Linked DNA regions of Homo sapiens. The protein of the gene in region 1 purifies or fractionates together with the protein of each later gene. This does not show direct contact. Each region holds a gene or a part of one and is shown on either strand. Other genes may lie near its edges.

Region 1 (3,500 bases):
CTCACCTCTCGGGGGATGCGGCCATGGTACCAGGCATGGCTGCGGAGATCCGTGCTGCTGAGTTTGAGCTCCTCCTCCAATTCCTTGTGGAGTTTCTCTGGCGATGAGTCCAGGATGTACTTCTCCTTGGAGAACTGGGTAGAAAACAGCAAGAGTTGGCATCCAACTTAAAGTCTCCTTCTTCTTTCCCTCCCAACTTCATTCTACCATGGATGAACTCCTCCTATCCTGGGACTCTGGGAACACTAAGGCACAGGTGCCAGACCCTTTCCCATGGGTCCCAGAAAGAGTAAAGAAATCTCAATTCCTTCCACAAAACAATGCCAGCTGCATTCCAGGCCCTGTGCTATATGCCAGGGGTGGATGCAGTGATATATAAACCAAGCCCGGCCCTCAAGGCAGTGCCTAGTCTGAGGAGAGGCAAAAGCAACAGGAGCCTCTGAGTAGAGTGCGGTCAGCACCACAGCGCTGGACAGCGGCAAAGAGCCGGGTGGCTTTTACAAGCGGGATTAAGCCTGGGCACGACAGAGGGGTCTCGGAAGCCTTCCTGGAGGAGATGGCAGTAAGAAAACACTCATTATATACCAAGGGCACCAAACTGTTCTTGAAGTGTTGGAGGGGGATTTCTACAGGTGAATCTTGGAGGTAAGGCAGCAGGTAACTGCAGGAAAAGCTATGAACAAAACCACAGAACTGGTTGGACAAGGATACGTTCTGGGATGGTGCATTCTACAATGCAAGGGTGGGGAAGGGACTATAAACAGGGACACGGGGACCCCAAACAGACATCTGCATTGCCCCTTACAATTTCCAAGGCCATTTCTCCCTTGAAATCCTCAGCAATCCTCACCCAGATGGGGAGACCATGGCCCAGCAGGGAAGCCCAAGGCCACTGAGGGAGATAATGTCCAGTACTCCACCCTCCCACCTGGCCCAGAAACTCCTGGTTTCTTGATTACTGTGGCCTGAAGTTGGAGGCTGATGGATCCCAGGGGCCCTAAGGGAAGAGGAAAGGAAGCCCTTAATGCCAGGTGTACGCCCACCAGAGCCCAGCCCAATCCTGGCTGTGCCTTGTGAGCTCTCTGGGCCTCAATTTCTTCCTCATTAAAATGGGTACAGTGACAGAACCTGCCTCACCTCACTGCGAAGATGAAAAGAGACAGCACTCCAGAGTACTACTAGCACATGGACATCCTCATCACTGCGAGGACATGGGATGGTTCTTCCTCTCCTTCCCCCACCTCCAGGCCCCAAAGATGGCTACTCCAAGACAGACAGACCCCAGCGCTGGCCAGAAGGCAGGACAGATGAGGGAGGGCAGTAAAGGGCCTTCATCCCAGGTGAGTCTCTCCCTGGGGCCCCTCGCTCCTGAGAGTCCGAAGGTCCTCCAGTCCACTCCCTGCCTCCTCAGACTATCCACAGATCTCGCCTCCTAATTCTGTGGCTACATCCCTCACCCCTCTGCTCCCATACTGCCTGGGTTTAGCCTAGTCTGCATTGCTCCCAAGACACCATGATTCCCAGTGTCAGAGATATCTAGAATCTCTGATTCCATTCAACATTGACTAGGTCCCTATCCTGGTCCTGTGCCAGGGCTGAGGACCCAAGGTGGCCTCTGCCCTGGGGGAGGCCTTGCAGACACTGACAATCAATTCCAGGTTTCCTGAATGTCCCGAGATGCACAGAGATGGTGCACCACCAAACTAGTCAGGGGGCAGAGTCAGGAATCACTTCCCTGAAAAGGTGGTGTTTCTGCTGAGGTCTGAAGGACTGGGTGAGCCAAGCAAAAGCACCAGGGTGGAGAGGGCAGGTGGACAGGTGGACAGGGAAGAGCTTCTGGGGAGAGAGCGGCAAAGTCAGGGTCCTACGGGCAGAGCCAAGGGGAGGGAGGGGAGATGAATAAGAAGCTTCCAAGGGGCTGTGGGGGCAGGGGCAGGTGTGGCACGGCTGCCTCAGGGAGCTGGGGTTTATCTGGAGGCCACAGCAGAGCCATGGAGGGGTTTGGAAGTGTTGGGGCAGGTTTAGTCCACTTATGGAGAGCAGCCTAGGGTTTTCCAGGCAGTGGCAGGGCAGATAAGGCGTGGGCAGAAGGAGTGGGGGAAAGGGAGTTTAGATGGCCATTGATTCATGTGGGGGAGCAGGGCGGAGGGGTCAGAGAGGACTCCTGGCCGAGATCCTAGAAGGATGATTGGGACATGCTCTGAGTGGGCAAGGCTGGGGCAGGAGCAGCTTGGTGGTGGACCCATGAAAATTTGGACCTTGAGGAGCCTGCAGGGCTCTGGGGACAGATGGTGGGAGTGGGCGGTTTGCACAGGTGCTCAGGAGAAAGGCGGGGCCTGGGAGTGGGAATTCTGCACATCCTCCGGCCGTGGTAGAAACCGATGCCCCCGAAGGGCAGAGAGGCCCAGGGCTGGGCTAGGATCTGGGCCTTCTCAGACACCTACACTTCTCCAAGGGGTCCCCTACTTCTGGGGGTCCCTGGTCTCTCTCCCTCTCACTCTGCGGTGCTCACACCAGGCTAGTCCTCTTTCCTCATATCACACCAAACCCTGGAAAGGGGAGAGTGGGCGTCACAGGGAAAAAGGGAACCAAGACCTCAGCCTTCTGGCGTCCTCCTTGACAAAGGGCATGCGATTGAGACCTTCCCCCAGTTCCACAGCTGGAGCTAGAGGGACGTGGGCAAAGGAGGGAGGAGGCTGGATGTTGAAGAACCGCCCCAAGGCTGCCACTGTGTGACCTTGAGCCAGTCACTTCCCCTCTCTGGGCCTGGGCAGCCTCATCCGTTAAAGGGGCTGGGAGACTGGGCTCCCCTTTTCCAGCTTAATCACTGGTCACGGAGAGTTTGGGGGGACCAACTTGGTCCTCCCACACACCTGAGGGTGAGGAATCCTAGGGTCCCTGTGCCTTGATCTCACCTCGACCTGGGAGCCCCCAGTTCCCTAGAGTTGGGGGTGCTGGGGTGCGAATGCAGCATCCCTGCGCTCGGCGCCCTGCTATTGGCCAGAGATGATCTCACCGCCTCCCGGCCTGCGCGCGCCTGATTGGCCGGTGCGGGGATGCTGCGCTCCGCCGCCGGCGGGGCAGTCCTTCAGGCGGGCTCCGCGAGCGTGTGTGAGCCTGGGGGAGCGAAGAGCCGACGCGCCTGGCATCTCCCAGGGGGCTCAGGGGGCAGGAGCGCGGAGACCCCCGGACAGGGTCTTAACCCCTTCCCGCCAGCCCGAGCCCAGCATCCCCTCCAGCTCCCCTCGGCGTCCCAACCCCAAGCAAAGCCATCCCCAAAGGATGCTCCGCAGAGAGGCGGGGTCCGGGTCCTCCCCTCCACCCCCTTCCGTTTAACCCTCTCACCGCCGCGGCGCCGTCCTGCACTGCCCGGCCAGCTGGGCTGGGAGAGACCCGCGCCCCAGGCATGTCCAAGCCCACCTAGAGGGCGGGAGGGTGGCGGGCGCTCTGGCCCCAACCCTGGCATCCGAAGCATCCCCCGCGTTTCCTGCTCCTCACTC
Region 2 (3,500 bases), on another chromosome or scaffold:
TCTCTTCCATTGACCAACCCTCTGGTGATCAGTTTTTTTCTGATGCTAATGTTCCAGGGATGAGGAGAATTTCTGTGCCACTGTGCCCAAGGATGGACGTTCCTATTCCCCAACTCTCTTTGCACAGACAGTTCGAGTCTTGAAGAAAATAAATAAGCCTGGGAATATGATTATGGCTTTCAGCAACTTGGCAGAGAGAATCAAGGTGAGGAAGAGGAGGAATTGTTTGCTGATTTCATTAAGAACCACGTTGTCAGCCAGGCATGATGGCTCAAGCCTGTAGTCCCAGCTACTTAAGAGCCTAAGGCTAGAGGATCACTTAAGCCCAGGAGTTTGAAGCTGCAGTGTGCTATGATCATGCCTGTGGATAGCCACTACACTCCAGCCTTGGCAAGATAGCAAGACCCCATCTCCTAAAAATCCATGCAAAAAAAATCAGATTGTCACCTCAGCTGTGCTGATTTTTACTCTATTTCAGGGAGAAAAAGAGCATTACCAAGAGAAAATATAAACAGATGGTTCTTTTTGGACAGTCACTTAGAACTACAATATTCTTAGTTTTATTCTTGTCAACATGAGAGTGAGAATAGAAATTTAAGAAATCGGCTGGGTACAGTAGTGGCTCATGCTTGTAATCCCAGCATTTTGGGAAGCCAGGGTGGGCAGATCACTTGAGGTCAGGAGTTCAACACCAGCCTGGCCAGCATGGTGAAACCCTGTCTCTACTAAAAATACAAAAATTAGCTGGGTGTGGTGGCAGGCGCCTGTAATCCCAGCTACTCGGGAGGCTGAGGCAGGAGAATCGCTTGAACCTGGGAGGCGGAGGTTGCAGTGATCGCAACCACTGCACTCCAGCCTGGGCAACAGAGCGAGATTCCATCTCAAAAAAAAAAAAAGAAAAAAGAAATTTAAGGGCCAGGCGCGGTGGCTCACGCCTGTAATCCTAGCACTTTGGGAGGTCGAGGCGGGCAGATCACAAGGTCAGGAGATAGCGACCATCCTGGCTAACACGGTGAAACCCCATCTCTACTAAAAATACAAAAAATTAGCCGGGCGTGGTGGCAGGCACCTGTAGTCCCAGCTACTCAGGAGACTGAGGCAGGAGAATGGCGTGAACCCAGGAAGCAGAGCTTGCAGTGAGCCAAGATAGTGCCACTGCACTCCCGCCTGGGCAAAAGAGCGAGACTCCATCTCAAAAAAGAAAAAAAAAAAAATTTAAGAAACCTCAACTAGAAGAGAAGAATGTGCACATTTATGTAAGATGTTTTTATGAAAACGTTTATGCACAGTGTTACCAATAGATTTTAAAAGCTAGGGTGTTAATGCAGAATAACTTTTTAGAAAAAAAAAAAGATGAGTAGTTTTCAGTCATTAATTTTTATTTGGATTGTCTCTATGTTTGTAGTTGGTAGTTGGCTTTTATTGGAATATGCATACATTTTAAAGATTAAAATACTATATTGTATTTAGCTAAATCCCTTTGGTTAGAGTATGACAGAGCTCTATTAGCAGGTAAGAAGAAGGAAGATCATGGCACAAAAGTCTAATAGAAAACCTTCCTTATTGCTGTCAGTCTTCCCTCTATTGAGTTTCTTTTTTATTGAGTTGGACTTCATCTTTGTTTAGAGCTTAGCCAGGTGGATCCCTGAGGAACTCAAGTTGTGAAGGAATTAAATGTCAAAATGACTTTAAAATTCCTATACCTGTTTGTATCAAAAATCAAAAACTGCTTTTCATACGCAGGCTGCATGAGTGACTCTAATTATGCAAATAATACCCTCCTCCATTCTCCCTTCTCCATCCACTTTTGAATTATGGCATTTACAACAGAACTGTTGCCAGATGGATGTTATATCTGATGTATTTCTTTTCCTCCTAACATTTAAACCCATTTCCAGTATGACTGCCAGCAGCTGAGCCAACCTAAAGGTCCAGAGTTGGGGCTCAATGCTTAATTTGTTCTTAGAATATCTTGGCTTGTTTTTGAGAAAATGAAGCTCACGTGTGTCACTGTCACTGTCAAGGGTTATTAATGACCTGTTTTTTTATTTTTGAGATGGAGTCTTGCTCTGTCATTGAGCACGCTGAATTCAGCTACACTGTGAATTCACTTTAACTACCAGATGTTGTATACTCAGTCTCTTGCAGACCTCCAACAACAGGAAGAGGAAACCTATGCAGATGCCTGTGATGAGTTCCTGGATCCCATTATGAGCACACTGATGTGTGACCCTGTGGTGCTGCCATCTTCCAGAGTCACTGTGGATAGATCCACCATTGCAAGACATTTGCTCAGGTAGGCCAGTCCCAAAAACAGACTCAAGAGCATATATATATATTAGTTTGCTATCTTTTTCTCCCAGGCACCTAAGACAGTACTTTGCACCCAACACATACCACATATTATTGATTTACTGATATGTTGGAAGACATTTTGGTTTCAATTGCTAGGATATAAACATTTCAAAACAAAACATTCTGTTGAGAAATGCTAACTCTAACCTCACCTCTTCCTGCCTTAAGAAAATAATTTCTGGCCGGGTGCAGTGGCTCATGCCTGTAATCCCAGCACTTTGGGAGGCCGAGGCAGGTGGATCACTTGAGGTCAGGAGTTTGAGACCAGCCTGGCCAACATGGTAAAACCCCGTCTCTACTAAAATACAAAAAATTAGAGGGGCATGGTGGTGCGCACATGTAGTCTGAGCTACTCAGGAGGCTGAGGCAGAAGAATTGCTTGAACCCAGGAGGCAGAGGTTGCAATGAGCCGAGATCGCACCACTGCACTCCAGCCTGGGCTCAGGTGATCCTCCTACCTCAGCCTCTGGAGTAACTGGGACTACAGGCATGCACTAACACGCCCAACTAATTTTTGTATTTTTTGTAGAGACAGGGTTTCACCATGTTGCCCAGGCTGGTCTTGAACTCCTGGGTTCAAGCGATCCAACCGCCTCAGCCTCCCAAAGTACTGGGATTACGGGTGTGAGCCACTGTGCCTGGCCTGTTTTTTTATTTTTGCGACAGAGTCTCGCTCTGTCACCAAGGCTAGAGTGCAGTGGCGCGATCTCAGCTCACTGCAAGCTCCGCCTCCCAGGATCAAGTGATTCTTCAGCCTCAGCCTCCCGAATAGCTGAGACTACAGGTGAGCACCACCACATCTGGCTAATTTTTGTATTTGTAATAGAGATGAGGTTTCACCATATTGGCCAGGCTGGTCTTAAACTCCTGATTTCAAGTGATCCTCCCACCTCAGCCTCCCAAAGTGCTGGGATTATAGGCATGAGCCACCTCACCCAGCCTGCTTTTTCTAATTCAGGTTTTACACTATATTCACCATGTGGATTAACTCACGTTCTGTTGCTGTTGTTGTATCAGCTGTGGTAACCATGAACTTTCCCCAGCCTGCCTATTCTTCGGACAGTCTGCCCCATTATAACTATAGAAAAGACAGGAATGAAGCAATAAATGGTAGCTTATTAGCTGCTTAATGGGCCCCTTAACTT

Evidence for each region. The genes of interacting proteins can lie anywhere in the genome.
Region 2: the proteins of SH2D3C (region 1) and UBE4A purify together in Homo sapiens (affinity purification with mass spectrometry; one large-scale study listed by BioGRID and IntAct). This does not show direct contact.

What each region holds. Positions count from the first base shown.
Region 1 is NC_000009.12:127,751,167-127,754,666, forward strand, and holds part of SH2D3C (SH2 domain-containing protein 3C), read right to left. Parts: intron 135-3,500; coding exon 6-134; intron 1-5. UniProt on the Homo sapiens protein: Acts as an adapter protein that mediates cell signaling pathways involved in cellular functions such as cell adhesion and migration, tissue organization, and the regulation of the immune response.
Region 2 is NC_000011.10:118,390,600-118,394,099, forward strand, and holds part of UBE4A (ubiquitin conjugation factor E4 A), read left to right. Parts: intron 1-57; coding exon 58-205; intron 206-2,138; coding exon 2,139-2,296; intron 2,297-3,500.